Regions from separate parts of the Homo sapiens genome. Here regions 2 and 3 are each linked to region 1. The links come from fine-mapping of genetic effects on gene expression. A gene starts in region 1. Each other region holds a variant in brackets. All regions are shown on one strand. Distances are between the middles of the regions.

The links.
Region 2: its variant is fine-mapped to the expression of SLC9A9 in whole blood (INTERVAL, PIP 0.96).
Region 3: its variant is fine-mapped to the expression of SLC9A9 in whole blood (TOPMed, PIP above 0.99).

The regions. Positions count from the first base shown.
Region 1 is chr3:143,845,399-143,851,058 of GRCh38, reverse strand. It overlaps SLC9A9 (solute carrier family 9 member A9), which reads left to right and starts at 2,591. Exons shown (of 16, transcript NM_173653.4): 1 at 2,591-2,911. The coding sequence starts at 2,737.
Region 2 is chr3:143,633,409-143,639,995 of GRCh38, reverse strand. All of the region lies in intron 6 of SLC9A9 (solute carrier family 9 member A9), which reads left to right. LOC102724120 (a long non-coding RNA gene) reads right to left here and starts at 5,995. Exons shown (of 3, transcript XR_001740940.2): 1 at 5,894-5,995. The variant C/T (reference allele first, on the strand shown) is at 3,937.
Region 3 is chr3:143,822,194-143,828,780 of GRCh38, reverse strand. All of the region lies in intron 2 of SLC9A9 (solute carrier family 9 member A9), which reads left to right. Among named protein-coding and RNA genes, the nearest start is that of SLC9A9, 23 kb to the left of the region's middle. The variant C/G (reference allele first, on the strand shown) is at 3,048.

The DNA.
Region 1 (5,660 bases):
ATACACCCCACATGCAATTTAACTCCTACTGGCTGTGTGACCTTGGCTATGTTGCCAAATCTCCCTGAGCCTTAAATTACTCACCAGGAGAAGGGTGAGTATTTTCTGCACATTAAATTAGACTAAGTTAAATTCCTTGGCATATTTTCTGGTCCATAGTAGACTCTCTATTGTTACATGTTTCCATTTTATTTTCTCACTTACGTTGGTACAGCAAAATAAAAAATGATATTCTAAAAAGAAAACACAAAATAGGAAGAATTGAATTCCTTTTCTGGATGGAGGAATTGGAGATGTTTCCTGAGCCCCTTTTCTTCAAGCTTTTCCCCCCAATGTGAAGCAGCATCAGGAATGAACAATGGAATAGTGAATGTACTCCATTCCTGGAATAAAGCAGGGGTCATACATTCAAACATCTGCAGGGGCCACACGGGGACCATGAATGAAAGAAGAGGGATGAATGGACTTGTGGCAAGCTGGTTGCAAATGCAGCAGGCAACCACTCAGCCCCAACAGATTGTGGCCATGTAAGAAGGGCCCAGTGTGCCAGATCTTACAAGTTTTTCTTGCAAAAAGCCATATGATTTTTTAAATGTTAAATATACTGATTTGAATGTGTTGACATCAAACCTAAAACTTTTTAAAAAGACGTGTAAGCCAATCAAAACATTCTATGGGCCATTAATCTTTTGTCAAGTTGCTTCATTGGTTAAAAGAGTGAAACTGGATGTCACGGATCAACCAGAGAATGTTTATTCTACTCAGATGGAATAATTGTGATAAAAGAAAACCAAAGTAATTCAATAATGACAAAAAACAAAAGGACAGGAAGTTTCTGAATTTGTGTTATCTTGTATATCTGACAACTCGACTGAACCTGTGGAGTTGCAAAATCATAAAGGTAGAACCTGCTAGCAAAGCTCCATGAAATGCTTGCAAGCATTAGCTGATAGGTTTCAAAACAGTATGAATATTAGTCATCACAGATATTCCTGCCAAAAAGGGTAGCGTGTCAGAAGAACATCTGCAGCACACATAAATACCCTCTGCTAAGTTAAACTCAGAGAGGAAATAAGCTTCCAAAGTTGCACAAAGCAAAGATGCTGAAACAGCAGAGCTTTGTATTAAGGGGTTGATAGACTTGCTCTCATGGTGAAACTGTTTGTTGAGGAGGTAGTTAGCTCCCAATAATATTACATGCTTGACCTTTAGCTTTTAGTGACAAAAATTGTTTCAGGACGCATTTGGGCTCAGCCTACTCAATAAGAAATCACATTGTATAAATTGAGCATTAATTGTGTCAAAATGGGGATCATAAGTGATTAATACTCCCAAATTACAATGATATGGTAAAATGAAAAAAAAAATCAGCTAACCCCAGGATATACCCAAATGTGTTATAGGATCAAGTGTTAAAAGCAAGCAGGTCATAATATTTGCTAAGAAAAAAGAAAGAAAAGGAAAAAAAAGCTGCAGAACCCATGGTATTATCTTGAACTATTTTAAAGTAGAAAAATATGAAATCAGACAGGAGCAACCTGCCACATGGAAGATGATCTGAAGAATCATCACTCTTATGATCAGAATCCTGTGAATACAGAGCTTTCATTTCTGGTGGCAGAACCATTTCTCAGTGAGCAACATTGTTTTGCCATAGGACAGAGGAGGTTGTGATCTATTGCAGATTTCTGTGGGTCCTGGATGCCGAGACCAGGAACCCTACAAAGAGAAATCCATGCATGTGGCGTTGCTGAGGATGGCTGCGTGAGTTTCTCTTTCGAAGTAATGTGTTTTGTTTTTTTTCTTTTTTGTCTCAACGTATCCAAACAGTACAGTTGTAGAGATGGGGATGGAATTTTATTTGTCTTTTGCTTTCATTGTTTTCTCTTGTTAAAAGAAAAACAATTGATTTAGAGTTTAAAGGCTGCTCTGCAACTATCAATTATATAAAGCCAAATAGAGTCATATACTAAATCCTTTCTTGCTTCTCAACTAAAAAAAAAAAAAAAAAATCCTGTGAAATCACTTTAGGTTTGCTTAACCAATGTACAGTCATGATTTGAGAGCATAAGAAACCCTATAAGAAACCCTATGCCTTAAGTGAATCCCATTGTGAGATACTTGAGCTATGAGGCGGAAGTTTCAGGCTAAGCAGTGTAATATCTTTTCAGGAGGCTAATATGCTGATCCATTTAGAGCACAGAGGCTGATTGATAACTGTGCTATCAATCCCCATCACTTTGGCAGGTCTTGGTTAGAGAGGAAAGATCTTGCATTTAGGTGAAGTTGAGTCAGGAATTGGCTTTTTGAACTTAGAAAACGTTGCTAGTGTAAGGCTACCTTTTTTATTATTAATCTACAGTTCATATTTATGCAGCTTAAGAAGACTTATTTGGAATAATAAGACCGTGATTCAAGATCTTAGCATCATTGCTTGCAGATTTGTCCAGTATGAAAGATATTTTCATGAGATGAATCACTTAAAGACATTAAGAGTCAGTGATGAAACCACACACTCTCGAGTTTGAAAAGAGACAGGGCTGCTTTAAGAGAGAAACAGGAAGTTGTAACTAGAAGCCATCTGAATACTAAGCCAGGGCAGAATGCTTGTGAAGTAGCAACTAAAGTGGCAGTGTTTCTTCTGAAATTCTCAGGCAGTCAGACTGTCTTAGGCAAATCTTGATAAAATAGCCTTTATCCAGGTTTTTATCTAAGGAATCCCAAGAAGACTGGGGAATGGAGAGACAGTCAAGGGTTATGTCAGAAAAGGATGAGTATCAGTTTCAACATCAGGGAGCGGTGGAGCTGCTTGTCTTCAATTTTTTGCTCATCCTTACCATTTTGACAATCTGGTTATTTAAAAATCATCGATTCCGCTTCTTGCATGAAACTGGAGGAGCAATGGTGTATGGTGAGTGCATAAATTGTGAGATTGATGTGAAACTTGTTGCTTGAGCGTAATTAGAGACTTGTGCTCAGATAGCAAAGTACCGAAACTGGAGAAAATGTGCTGATTGAAATGTCATTAGTTTGATGAAAGGTGCTGCAGCGTAACGAATGCTAATCTCTTTACAGACAAGCCGCCGAAATTTGCCATGTCACGAGAGCAAATGTCACAGTCATGTTCTCACACGGCACATAATGCAAGTCTGTTGACAGATGCGGGTCCATTGTCATGTGGGGAGTCGAGGGCGAGCTGTTTGTTTTTGTAATGATGTTGGGAAGTGATGGCTCTGCAGTCACAAAGAGCAGCCTTCTCTCACTGGCTGCACCGATGAACATTACGAAGTTCTAGAAAAAACATCACTTCAAAATGCCTGGAGTAATTCCTCTTATATCAACTAATTTCAAGAAGAAAACTTGCAGAAACTAACCCCACCCCTCTTAAGAGAATATTGTGTCCAAGTCCTTTTTATTTATACGAACAGTGTCTTATTTTCTTATAATAAAAAGTTATAAATAAACGAGAGTTTCTTTATGCAGTACTTTTTACTTCTTAGCCTGATTTCAGATGTTCTAATTTATAATGATCATTGCTAGTGTTATTTGTTATGTATCTCCTATTTATGTATTGGAGGCCAAGGTGTGGAAAAATATTTAACACCTGCAGTATTGCTCTTTCTGGGCAACTTACCGTATCATTCCTTTCAGAAAGTTTAATAAAGTCTGACAGAGATTATCTGTCTGTACTCTCATCTTTTAAAGTAAAATGAAAGACACCAGTTTTTACTGGTGTTACTGATGAAATAGTTTACTTCACTGCTCTTATCTCAGCCTGATAATGGATAGGAAGTTTGAACACAATGGCAACAGGCAAGGCATTGCTATAATTTATAGCAAATAACATACTTTTATATTTGGGGTTTCCTCATTTTGGAAATCCTGAAACCCTTTCCTAAGCCTGAGATTCAGGGTACAGATCAATGCACATTGTATATGCTAATCCTGTGGTGTCCTGATATTAACAGTGTATAGTTGTGATTTCAGAACCTAAGGAATCCTAAGCCTTAAGTGGATCCCACTGTGAGATACTTGAGCTATAAGGCGGAAGTTTCAGGCTCAGGAGGCTGATATGCTGATCCATTCAGAGCACAGAGTTAAATTCCTTGGTACTGAGGGTCTTTTAAAAATTTTTTGCTTGGGAGTGGGGAGGGACAGCATTAGGAGATATACCTGATGTTAAATGACGAGTTAATGGGTGCAGCACACCAACATGGCACATGTATACATATGTAACTAACCTGCACGTTGTGCACATGTACCCTAAAACTTAAAGTATAATTAAAAAAAGAAAAAAAACATAACCCAAATGCAAAAAAAAAAAAAACCTTTTTTTGCTGTATTGTTTTATTTATTTTTTAAAATTTAGTGGAGACAGGGTCTCACTATGTTGCCCAGGCTGGTCTCCAACTCCTGGCCTAAAGAGATCCACTGACCTTGGCCTCCCAAAATGCTGGCATTACGGGCATGAGCCACCATTCCCAGCCAGTATTGAGGGTCTTAACGGGCACAAGAAAACTCTCATTTAAGAGAAAAAAAAAATCACAATCAGGTGGGAGAGAAATAGCCAAACAAAAAGGAGGGGATGCCATCAGATGTGAAGCCCTAGGTTCCTGTCATTTGCCTATCTCCATCATGAACAGAATTTTTCTCTTGACTTGACTAATAAGTAATCTGCAAGGATATGGAATAGAATCTGAGAAGCCAGAAACAATGTAATTCTTGATATCATATTAAAGGGACATATGTGCTTTAGCAAAACTACCCAGATTTAATAGATTGCCAACCTTTATTAGAGGGAAAGATTTCTTCACATCCCTGAATTTGATTGAACTATGACTCATTTACCAAGTTCAATGGTGGGGATATTGTTTTCGTAAAAGTTTTGATAACCTACTAAAATTCAGTCATGTTTTGCATTCACAATACATACAGTAACTCTTACTTTTGAATCTGAAAAATTCCAGGTTACCTTTAATCCTGCAAAACTCTCTGAAATATTTTTAAATTGTGCTTGAAATAATAAAATAGTAGTTCATTGACCACTGCTATTGAGGTAGCATTTCTCTAAATTGCTGTTCTTAAGGCAGATAAAGGCTTAAAGTTTATGAGTGGAATTAAGTTGGGTTCTCTGATTCCTATTCTTCTTTCATGAGTTTTTTAAAGTAAAAGTTATTGAAAGCAAATTCTGAACCAGTGCAATGTAAAAGGATTATAAAAATTATGGAGATATGCATATATATGTATTCTCTTACTAGAAATTTTGAGTATCTTTCAGTTATCTTGAACTATATAGATCAATGAAAAGACATATTTTAGTGATGTTTAACTTTTTCTTGGCATAGAATCATAATTGTTAGGATGTCAAAGAATTTTAGAGGTTATCTTCTCTATCCCCTTTATTTTAGAGAGGCAGAAGCTGAATCCCAGAGAAGTGAAGGGACTTTCCAAAACTGAATAGCCACTCATGACTGGTCCATGTGCTTTCACTCATCTGCATGTCTTACTAAGGTTCACGTTCACCTGAAAGAACTCTCCCTGTGTTTTCTGAAAGTACTCCATATGGGTGGCATTCATGACTTGTCACATTTCTTCTTCAGGGATGTCCTAAATGTTATATCTTAAATGCTTATTAGGAACTTTCTATCAGTAATGTAATA
Region 2 (6,587 bases), 210 kb after region 1:
ACCCAGGGACCAGAATATCCATGCTGGTATGGTCATTTCATTTTCTTTCTATTGTCAAGGTACTTAAGAAGATGAATTATAATCAGCATCCACTTTATTAATTCACCACAGAAAATTACTGTCATCGGGATTTCAAGCACCCCAAACACCATATGATAAAAGCAGCCTTTCCCATAGGCAGGCCTGCATATGAAAGCAAATAATATCAGAGGGTTGTATGGTAAACACAGGGACAGATGAAGGTTGTCAAATGTTTATCCTCATCCTTCACACAAAAGCTGTTGTTTATCCAATGGGTCTTTGAAATTTTGAAGTGCTTGGTAATGACCTCCTAAATCCATACCAACATTCAGGATAATTAAAAACTGCTCACTTTTAGTAAGATGATAAAATTTGGCCCTCTCAGTACTACACAAAGCTGGGAAGAAGACTAGCAGTGTTTGATTCTGTGATTCTTTTATGACTACCCAATCCTTTTTCTAATTGATACAGTATACTTTTGTCATGATGCATCAGTGTCATTTGTCTCTAATGTCCTTTAATATCTGGTCAGGGGTTGATAGTGATTCCCTCTCATTCCCTCTGTTGTAACCAGAGGCATGAATGCCCATGCTAGTGCCTACTAACAGATAGTAGTTGATAGCTAGGCATCAGGCTGTCTATGAGAAGAACCAATCTTGACTTCTGCCTCATGCAAGGAAAGATTTCCAAAGGTTGCCACACTCGCTTCTAATAACATAATCTAAAATACTGCATACTAAGCTTTTGGGTCAGAAGTCAAGAGTTAAAGGAAGCTATGGCTCTCACTTCAGGGGGTGGAGGGTAGGTGCAGCTAAACAAAAAGACAAAACTCTATAAATAGTTTTGGGGCTCTGAATTAAGAATTTTTCATCCAAAGACATATTTTCTTTCTAATACACTTAAACCTGACTTCTCATTCTGAACAACCAAGAAAATGTCTTTTATTTCAGGTGACCAAGTCTGGATTTTTTCTAAGAAAAAACTTTCCAGAGAACAAGGGGCCAAATCAATATGCAATAATAATTTTGGTCTAAATTAAAAGCTCTCTCTTGGCCTGGAGAATATAATCTGCTCATATTACTTGAGCTTTGTAATGAATTTACAAGACAGGCTTATTGCCAGTTTTATGTGGGCTCTGCCTTACTGGGGCATGGGATGCTTAGGGAATCTGATTAAAACCTTGGGAAAGAGCAGCTGTTCAGCAATAGAGGGTGAATTCAGGGCCCATTTTTCTGTGCCTGACTGCAGGGCCTGACACCCTTGCCAGCTATTGGAAGATAAATGAACTGTCTTTGAATGCCTAGCTCCCTTGTTAATAGCTTTAAAATATTGGTTGTTTATGGGAAAGAAGTCAGGAGCTCTTATCAATTTTCCTGCCCCAGGGGTCCTCAAATATATCACTTTTCCCGTTGCCAGAATGGCAGGCAGTATTGAAGGAAAAAGGAGGAAATTCTTTCACCATTTAGAAGTTCTTCATGGATTCACAGCAAGAGTTTCTCATTTCAAAAGTTAGAGTGAATGCCCACTAAATTATTAGATGAAATAACTCACATAGAATTTAGACTCCCCTCTTCCTGGCATTATCCTGCAATATCAGAATCATGATGTAGTTTCATCTGTTTTTTCTAAAGGCAATTAATTCAAATTGGATATATGAAAGTCAAATTCTAAAGTCTGTGCCAAATGGCTTATTTTCAGAATGGCAGTTAAATGGTCAAATTTGATCTAATGACATTAAGGTGAGCATGCTATATTTTGGGCCATTAAATTAAATTCTTACCCTAATGTGTTTTGAGGTTTATCCTTTTTCATTTTTACCCCCCATTCCCATTCTCACCCGCCTACTTTGCTTTTTATGGAACTCAGAAAAACTTCTTGGCAGAGTTAATTCTTACTTATGTAACAGTTGACTATTTAAATTTTCAGATATTGTTTATTGTTCTTATAGCTGTTCACTTTTAGCCTTTTCATTAGCATAACTTATAAGAAAAAGTTAGGAAAAGTAGAAAAATATATGCATGTATGCAGTTGGCTTTCTTTTCATTAGTAATTCTAATACAAGTTTTCATGGAAAAACTTTAATCTTAGAACATAACCTCAGATGTGGAAAGTATGTGTTTTACTTCTCCATGGAGAAGTAAAGGTTGGGTTGGCAGTCTGGATTCTGACTTTATTATTTACTAGTTTTATACCAATGAGCAAGTCAGTCAACCTCTTTAAGTTGGTTTTCTCATTTCATCAAGATGGCAACTTTAGTATACATATCTATTCTCACCTTTAAAAAATAAAAACCTGTTGAGATTTTAGATGTCAGTTACGCTAAAGCTATAGATTATAAAAGCAAATAAGATCAACTTTAAGGGGAAACAACATTATAGAAAACTAAAGCCCAAAGCATATATACTTACTAAGGTGTATATAAATGGCTATTATATCTACAAAACAGGGATAAGCTGAAATTTGAAATATAAATCATAGAAATTCAAAATAGGAAAATCCATATTTATCAAAGCCTTTGTTCAGTTTTTACATTCTTTTTGCTTTATTTTTGTCTGAATGGGTTAATTTAAAAGATATGTAGTCAAGCTTTGAAATTTTTCTGCTTTGTCTAATCTATTGTTAAAGCTTTCAACTGTATTTTGTAATTCCATCTGTAAATTTTTCATTTCCAGAGTTTTGTGCTTTCTTTAAATATCTATCTCTGTAGTAAATTTTTCATTCATATCTTGAATTGTTTTTCAGATTTCTTTGTATTGGTTTTCAACTTCCCCTTGGATCTCGTTGAACTCCCTTATGATCCATATTTTGAATTCTTTATCTGTCATTTTAGAATTTTCATTTTGGATAAGATCCATCACTAGAGAGCTAGTGTGATCCTTGAGGGGTGTTACAACACTGTTTTTTCATGGTGACAGAATTGGTTGGTTCCTTCTCATCTGGAGAAACTGTCACTTCTTATTTTTGAATTTACATTCATTTTAATGGGACTTTATTTTTCCCCTTGAAAGTGTGACTGTTGCATATGTTGGGTAGGGTCATTTGGCTTTGCTAATTTGTGATCTTGGGGTGGGGGCTAAGGCTCCGTATGAATTCCTTGGTTATAGATAGCCTTAGTGTAGTGGCTTGCTCAAATGCTGCTTGTTTGTAGGTTTTAGTAGTGGTGTACTCTGCATGTTGTCAGGCTCACTGTCTCCTGCAGAGATGGGGAAGTAGAAGTCTCAGGAGATTATCTCATTCCCCAGTGCTTTGCACTTCTGTTTATTCTCACTTATAAATGGGAGCTAAATAATGGGTACACGTGGACATAAAGAGTGGAGTAATAAACATTAGAGACTCCAAAAGGTGGAAGGGTGGAAGGTAATGAGGCTGAAAAATTACCTATTAGGTACAATGTTCACCATTTGGGTGATGGATACACTAAAAGCCCAGGCTTCACAGCTATGCAATATACACATGTAATAAATCTGCCCCTGTACCCCCTAAATCTATAAAAATATTAAAAAATTTAAAACTGGGAAAATCAAAATAAAATACTTAATAGATGAGCGGATATGATTGTCTACTTAGAAAATACAAGAGACTTAAATGGCAAAATATTAGAGAAATCGGAAATCTGGCTAGACAGATGATTGACAGACAAAAGTCAGTAGCTTTCCAGGACTTCAGCAACAATTAATGATAACATGTAATGGAAAACAGTTTTATTCATAATAGCATCTTAAAAATCTAACATAATTAGAATAACATTAAATAATAAATGTACAAGATATCTGAGAAGAAAAATTTTAACTTTAGTAAAGGACCAAAAAGACACCACAAACAATAAGGAGAGCTGCTATGAGACAGGATGACAAGATTCAAAAGCCAATTCTCCCACAAGTAAACTATATCTTCAATGTAAACTCACTTCTAAAA[C/T]CACAACATATATTTTTAAGCCTATTCTACAGATCATGTGGAGCTTCTGCTTAAGACAGCAGGATAAAATAGTTTTATTCTACTAGACTCCCTGAAAACAAACTAAAACTAAGAAAAACACTGAAAAATAGAAAAAAAATAGCCGTTGAAACAGGAAAGTATTCACAACTCCAAACTATAAACTATGAAATATTTAAGTATGAAGTATTGCCGCTGAATAATGTGAAATCTTAAACAAGAGATGGTAAGATGCTGAGCCAAGTCTGTTTCTCTCGGACCTGATAGCACATCATACTACTGAAAGGAGCATCCAATATTCTGCTGTTTAGAGCACAGTTAAGATCAGGTAGATGGGTCAGGGGAAAATGGGGAAAATAGTCTGACCCCTCAAAACAGCAGCCAAATAGAAATCATGCTGACACATTCTGGTTTCCTAGCCAAGGACTCTGCTGGAGGCTATTTGTATGGAAGAAAAGGAGAAGTTTTCAAATTAAAACATAATTCATCCGCAACTTCGGGGGTTTTTCTCTGTGCCACCTCAATTTGAATGCCATAAACTACAAAAAGATGTATTCCCAATAGCAAAGAAATAACAGATTTGGTGACAGATGCTTGAGACAGCCAGTGGCAGTTTTAAAACATAGCCCCCAAATTCATTGACACTCCTATCCAGAAATGGGTCTATGCCCCACCTTCAGTGTAAAGAATACAGAAGGGATGCTGTCCCAGTTTCCAGGTCCAGGCCTTTAGTAACTAGCAGCTTCCACCTCCTCTCGCTTAGAGAACTTACTCTTGGAACCCAGCCACCTTGCTGTGAGGAAGCCAAATCAGTCTGTGGAGAGTTCCACCTGGAGAGGGAGCGACAGCCAGCAAGACTTGCCAGACATGTGGGCGATCCATCTTTGAAGTGGATCCTGCAACCCCATTCAAGCTGCCCCAGCTGATACCACGTGGAGCAGAAATGAGCTGGACCTACTGCACCCTGCCCAATTTGCAGAAATGTGAACAAAATAACTGATTGTTATTTTAAGTCACTCAGTTGTGGGGTGGTTTGCTCTGCAACACTAGATAACCAGGACAAAACCCAAATTAAAACAGCAGTGAGCCTCAGCTTACTCTACCCTATTTCACCCCTTTCCCTGTACTATTATTTAATTATTTAAATAATAGTCAGGCTTTTAAAAAGATGAGTTATAATCAAAAAGGAGGGAGTAATATATATTCATTAAAACTGCAAAGTAATTTTTTATAAATAATGGAGGGAATTTAAGCCAAAGAAGAGCCCACAATCCCCAAACAAATACATCAAAGTATTTCAGAAAAATTGTAGACAAAGAGTTCTCCATTATTCTGAAGGACTTGCAGAAAATATGGATCTCTCTGTCTCTATATGTGTGTGTGTGTGAAGCAATAAACATCAAGCAAATGCTCCTAAGTATCAAGCAAACAAAAATGTTCAGAGCAAAGTTCAAAATTTTATAGAAGAGATATAAAATAATTAAGGGAGATTAAAAGTGTGCTGGCAATACTCAGGGAAAAAGTTGGAGAGATCAATAAAATCACTAAAGAGACAAAAGACACTAGAAGCCACAAAAATACAATGAACTTCACTGAAAATATTGTTAAATACATAGAAGACGCATTTGGGGAAATAACACAAAACAAAGTAGAAAAGAACAAAGATATAATGACTCCAGAGAATATGACAGAAATGAATGACAGATAGTTGGATGGTTTTGAAGAAGAAAACACTTGGAAAAATATCATAAGAACATGGTGTAAAACAATATTCTCCCGAAACAATGTAATAAATAGATAGACATAAAGGACCCACTAGATTTCAGGAAAGTTTCATTTGGAATCATCGACAGCATAAGATAATCTGAAAAAGTTACTGAATTTCAAGCTTAAAGAAAGGATTATGGGAGCACATAGGCAGAAAATTCAAGTCACTTACAAGAGCAGAAATAATCAGGTTGGCTTTCGACTTGACCACAGTGACATTCAATTTCAGAAGATGGAAAGGCAGCACATGTTCACTTCTGAGGGAAAGAATGTGAAACCCAAGCCAGATTGTTCCTCCAATATAAAGGCAACAGTTTGGGTGTTTTAATAGATAGTGTGGGGCAATGGGCTATTCCTTTGGGAGAAAAGTTAAATGCCTAATTCACGTCATTCCTAAAATGAAACTAGAAGGATTACAGAGCTCAATGTTAAGAAAAACTACAAAAACATTGGAAGCATATTTTAGAATTTTAGAATATTAATACTCTTCCTAAATAAAATTCAAATCCTAGAAACAATAAAGAAATAGATAGTATTTTATAGATCTTGTGTGTGTATAGCTATAGATATGTTCAATGTTTTCAAGAATCTTTTTGCCAGTATCAGCCAAAATTTAAATGTGCCCAGTGAAGGTACTTCTAGCAATCTACCTTACAAAATATTTGCTTACATCAACAAAGATATTTATACACTGTATCATTGTAATAACAAAAAAATGTAAATAGTCAAAATGTCTATAAGAAAGATTAAATATACTGTGCTACATACAAACAATGGCACACTTTGGAGCTTTAAAAAAATTTATGGCCTGAAAAAACCTCTAAGACATTTTAAGTTAAAAAACGAAGTTTCTGAAAATGTATAGT
Region 3 (6,587 bases), 23 kb after region 1:
AACACAACAAGAACTTTTTTCTTCAGGACCTCTGTACCTGTCATTCCTTTCACCTAAAATGGCCTCACGTCTACCCTTTGAATATCAGCCTCCTTCACATTACTAGAGTTTTGGCTTGAAGTACCATCTTTTCAGAGAGGGCTTACCCATTTTCTCACACTGTATCCTCCCTCCCTTCTCTTCTCTCTCTCTCTCTCTGTGTGTGTGTGTGTGTGTTGGGGTAGGTATGTGCTTGTTTCTTTCTCTCTTATTTCATAGTACTTGACATCATCTGAAATTATACATGTATTTGCTTGCTTTTTGTTTATTAGCATTCTTACATTGCTTATTGTCCATTAGACTGTAAACTTCACAAAGGCAGGGACCATACCTTTTTTACTGACCAATGTATCCCCAAAGCCTATCCTGGTGCCCCATGCCTAATAGCTGCTAAACAATGAATGAATGAATAAATAATTGATGAGTCTGAGATCTTGGCAGAGCACATATGGCTAGAGAAACATACAGTATTTAGAAATTATCATTCTTGGAGTTGGTAGAATTGTAGTGTCCTGGATGCTTAATGTTTGTAGACACCTGAGACATTCTTTAATCTTAGCTGTGCATATATGGATAATACATTAATGTCCAGAGAAAATACATGGTGAGTTCAGGGTCCCACTACTGGTTAGAGAAGAGATAGAACTTGGACTATAGCACTTAATTCTGAGACCTGAGTAAATTATTATACCCCACACTACTGGACAGGCTCTCTGAGAGGCCACATGGACAGAGAAGGGCAGGGCACCTGGGGCTAAGACCTAGAGCGTTTCACAGTTAGACAGGCAGAAGGAGATGACCAGTGCTAGAAAGAGTGCAGGGAGGTCAGAGTTGAGGAAGAAGTCCGGCTCAGCAGAGTCACAGAAGCCATTAGTGTGGCCCCACTGGGTCCTTTTCCTTTGTGATATATTTTAAAGGGAGTATTTTGCCTTTGTTTCTAAAAGTTACATGATTTGAAAATGGGTTTTACTCTTAGAAAAATATAGTTTAGTGTCTTGGATGAAATTTCTGACTTCAGGATTTGGAGAGGCTGGAATGAATTCTTGTGCTATGTAATGGCCTCTTAGAAGATTTTATAAGAGCACGTGTATTTCTGGGATGGTTAGGCATTGACGTGCTTAGAGACAGAACTGGTTTGATGGCTCTGTGAGTTCCTTCCAATAAGAAGGTATAAAACTGGAAAATATGAGAGCTGTTGGCATTTATATAAACAGCAATGTACTGTGATTTTATGCCATGTTTAAACATATAAAAATTTCAGGAAACACCATATGCCAAACTTGTTTTGTTCATGCTCAACACAGATAAAAGTGTAGAAAAGAAAAAAAATATTTTCACTTAAAGATTGGTGAAAACAGTATTCTTCTATATGTTATGAGCAGACGATGAACTCAAAACAACCTTCTAAGAGGATAAAACAAGACCATGTTGCTCTGTATCTGTTCAGCCAATGTTTCCACCACCATTTGTCAAATTGTTCTGTGTATACAAGATACCTGCAACTGGTTGTAACCCTTTAGGGCCTACATCCTATTACATGATAGCTTTGCAAACATAAGTTTGTTATGTAATATTTAGGAATACCAAAATGTCTACCAAATATTTCTGCATTTTATGTCAATAGGAAGTTCAAAACCTGTTTTGAAGAGAAGATGATAAAATAACTTTCTGTTTCATACTTTCATTCATTTATTCTTTCAACACAAATGAACTGAGTCCTATCAATTTCAATTCTGAAACAAGATGTGGTCCCAAGGAGTTTAGTAGTAAATCAGAGAAAAACATAGCATATGAATAAATGAATGAGTAACACTAAAGGCACGTATCAAAAAAGTGGGACAAGAACCACAGGCGTCCAGAACAGGACAGTATGGTCTCTTATTAAGGGTAATAGGAAAGATTTCTAAGAAGGGCAGTTGATTGACTCTGATGATAGGGGTATGTGTGGTGTTGGGGGGACAGAGGGGAGGAATTCCATGCAGAAGGAAAAGCATGATATGGATGTGGGAAAAGGGGTAGACAATATTCCAGGAAAGAAAAAGCATTTCCAATTTGTTGAAGTGTGGAAGACCAGTGAAACCTAGAGCTGAAAATGAAGGCAGACCTTGATTTGGAAGCCCCTGAATGCCAGGCTGAGTAATGCCCTCTCTATTTGTAGTCAGAGGAACAGTGTAATGTTGACAAAAGCAAAAGGATAGTGTGCCTGCTGTGTACAGGGTAGAGAGTGAAAGCAAAGAGACAGATGAAGCCTAGACTTGGATGGTAACCAAGAGGTAGATGCAAGAAAAACGAGGAAGGAAGGCTGTGAAGGGCTTGGCCCAACTAGTCAGAAGAAGAGGAAAAACAGCTTCCTCTGCTACCCTGGTCATGTGGGTTCACAGAAGGGTGGTGAGGCAAAAATGTGGAAGTTAAAAGTTAGAAGAAGGAGTTGATTTGTAGGAGAAAATCACAAATCACAAATATGGTGGTTTTTTTTTTTTTTCAAGACAGAGTCTTGCTCTGTCGCCCAGGCTGCAGTACAGTGGTACGATTCCAGCTCACTGCAACCTCTGCCTCCTAGGTTCAAGCAATTCTCATGCCCTAGCCTCCCAAGTAGCTGGGACTACAGGTATGTGCCACCACGCCCAGCTACTTTTCGTATTCTTAGTAGAGATGGAGTTTCACCATGTTGTCCAGGCTGGTCTCAAACTCCTGACCTCCAGTGATCTGCCTGCCTCAGCCTCCCAAAATGCTGGGATTATAGGTGTGAGCCACAGTGCCTGGTCACAAATGTGGTTTTAAACTGATGAATGAATGAATCAATCTATTTCATCATTAATTTATTCATCATTGATTTAGCATGTTAGGTGTTTATAATACTCAGTTGGAAGGGTCAGTGGGCCATTTGGCTGGAAAAGTCTTGCAGATACAGTAGATTATCAAAAAGTTGTCAGTACAGTTAAATTTACACTTCCTATCACTCATAGATAAGTTGACTGTAATGCAAAAAGTCAAAGGAAACTACCCAG[C/G]GAAAATTTTGCCAAGTCTTCACTTCCTGTGTGACAAGTAGACACTATCGCTTGGTAAAGGAAGTTACTTTGAAGTGAGTTACACTGCTGAGCAATCTGTCCTTTCTATTCTTTCAATAAAGAGAATTGCCAAGCTGCAAATAGGTCATCAGAGCTCGTTTCAATTGTGTTGATAATACTACATATTTTAGAGCTACTTTAAGGAAGCCCTTATAGAAACAACTAACCATAAGACTTTTAAAAGTAATTTTGTTTTTGAAGAATTAAATAATTAATTTTTTGTAGCTTTAAATAAATAAATCAAAGTCCTTTTTTTTTTCTCACCATCCAACTTTTCCTAATGGTGATTTTGATTTTTCATCATTCAGAGTTTTAATTCTCATATATTTATTTGTAAACTACATTTGCATTTCTAGTCTTTTCCTTTACTTGAGCTTCAATAAGGCCAGGGGCAAACCTCTTCCTGTAACAGGAATCGCTTGAGCAGAGAGAGTCATTGGGCCATGAGATAAATATGTACAGTTAACACTAGGACACTCTTGGGGAGGATAAACAAAGGACTGAAAAGAAATTTTTTAAGAAACTTTTCTAGGCACACTGAGAGAAAGCAAGCTTCATGATGATAAATCAGCATTGGGGGTGTGGAGAAGCATTTGTAGGATACTATCAATTATTCTTCCTTTCAACAGAGAATAGGGCTCCATGATTTGTGTTTCTCTATCATGACAATTCTTGGCTCCTACCACGTGAGATGGTTCCAGAGAATGTCAAGTTTGGCAGTAAATGGGATGAGGCTGTTTGGGCGGATGCAGCTCCTTTCATCCTAAACCTTATTTAAGAGATCTGCTGTTACTAAAGAAACTAAAAATTTGTTTGCTTTAGCTGTTTTCTTCCACTTTCATTCAACATTTTTGGCAAAAAGTTGGCCTGTGAGATGACCTCAGAAATGTATTTAAAGACTCTAAATATTCCATTTGGTTTTGATTTCATCATTGAACAACACAGATTTTCTTCATTCCTTCAGTCATTCAAAAAATATTTATTTATTGAGCACTTGCCACTTGCCAGGCATTGGTTTTAGGTGCTGCAAGTATGGTAGTGAACAAAACGAAGTCCTTGTGCTCATGGGGTTTAACTTCCTGGAGGGGGATAGACAAAGGAAGTTCAGCACAAGCATTTGTAATCCAGAGCCAAGTGGAGGCAAGTGCTATGAAGAGAAGTTAGCAAAATTAGAAGGTTCGGAGTGAAGGGTCTTTAGATATGTCCTGCAGAGAAGGCCTCACTGAGGTGAATCGGAGCTGAGTCCTAATGAAGTGGGGACTATGCCATGCAGAAATCTGGAAGAAGGGAATTTCAAAGCAGAGGACAAAACTAAGTAACAGTAAGTGCCTGCTGCTTTCTGGAAGGCAGTTTTTTGTTTTTGGTTTTTTGGTTTTTTTTTCCTGCCAGCTCTTTGCCATTTTATTCATGAATATTCTAAGATCATTTTGTATATATAAAAAGTTTTAGAAAAAAATATTTTTTAAAGTAGAGAAGGGCAGAGAAGAAGAGAGAGATCATCTTGGAATAGGGATTGGAAATCTAGAAACACAGGGACACTCTGCTCCTAGGGGCAGGAAGTGCCATGAGGTACCATGGCCACTTTTGAAAGCTTGCCTTCAGAATGCACCACGCAAATACTAACTTCCAAACTTTTGATTATGCACCCACCAGTGAAATGCGTTTGAGAATATATCCATATACCTTTTTATTTACAAGTTGGATGTAAGGACTACTGTATCAATATACTCTATACATTATAAAGCAGATATCAAACTAGAATTTTTTAAAAGGATGAGATAAAATGAAATATAAACAGAAGTTCCAGTATGTCCTTTGCACACCAAAATCATCCTTTCCATTCTCTAAGATATGGACACCTCATCTTAGAGAACAATATAATATCTTATATTTTATTAAAATTTTATTTTTATTGTAACTATTAAATATTTTTGATAACATCTACCTTTAAAAATTCCACTCTTTTCTGAAATCTTTTTTAATGTTTAATTTTTAATTTATTTTTTAATTTTTTTATTTTTTATTTTTGTGGGTACATAGTAGGTATATATATTTATGGGTTACATAAAATGTTTTGATACAGGCATGCAATGTGAAATAATCACATAATGGAGAATGGGAAAGCCATCCCCTCAAGCATTTATCCTTTGTGTCTTTTCTGAAATCTTAAATTCTGTATTCTGAGTCTTGCGGCACCAGTATGTGCATGGGCTGTTGGCCTGACATGAGGATGTTCTTAGGGGCTGATTACCTCTGGGAGAACACTCATCTTCACCCCGAATGTCCCCATGCTACTCTACTACAGTATCCAGGTCTTTTGTCTCATAGGTCTGCAGTCTCATAGCTCCACCTGACATTCCCCCACTGCATTTTAGCTGAGTTGTAAGTTAATATTTACTTCTATAATGTTTTGATTCATGTCTGTCTTCTCAATGTCACTTGTCTACAGTCTCACTAGACTGTGGGCTCCAGGAGGGCAGAGACTAGGTCTGTTTAGTGGTCACATTCATTCCATGATTCCTGGCAAATGGTGAATTCTCTGTGGATCTTGATAAATGAATGGATGATGTAACCAGGTATCTATCATTCTCTGCTTGTCAGTAGCTCCTTTTTACTGCTACTCTGTCCTGTCTTAATTGCTGGCTATTTTGTAACCAAGCATCTAACCTCAGATTTCTCCTCAGGGTGAATTATGTGTGCTCTGTGATGGTTGTTTACTACTCAGAGGACTGAACTGCTAAAAAGTCTGCTCTCCAAATAATTGCGTAGGGATGGAAGGAGGCAGAGAGAGATTCAAGGCAGGGAGAGAGGGAGAGAAAAGGAGCCTGAGCAAAGAACAGAAAACAGAGAGAGAGTGGAAGGGAAAAAAGAGATTTCCCATTGTACTTTAAGTCTGAGTAAATAATATTTACAATGGATCTTTCAATTCTTTTCCCCATTGCTTTGTTCCTTCTAAAATATTAAACTGTGGCAAGAGTGCACATTTATCATTGCTGGTCTCCAGCGAGTAGTTATTTAAAGTTCCACCCAGCTGCATTTCCCTGTTCTCTCCTGAGGTCATTAGGAAGCTCCTGTTTAGTAACAGATACAGCCTGAGGTAGGCTCCACAGACAGCTGGGCACAGGAGGGGAGGGGACCTAACGAAGCTGCACATTCAGCTGGTTGTCTCTTGTTGCCTTTTAAGCTTGCCTGGAGTTATGGAGTCTCCCAGCTGCTCCCTTCACATCCATTTCTGATCACAGGACTAAGTGGGCTCTGATTTATCGAGTTCTGCCCCAGGTTGGGGTGTGTGGAGCAAGAATGTCCTGCAAATTCGAGTGGTCTTCATCTTTCTTTCTAACTGTCATATGATGGGTTCCCAGAAAAGTGGTGGACCCTCAGGTAGTGTGTAGTGAGCAGGAAGTTCATCAAGTGCCCTTGAGATTGACACCTTTCAGTAGAAGAGGAAGGAAGCCTGAGTGGGTAGAGAGAGAAATGAAG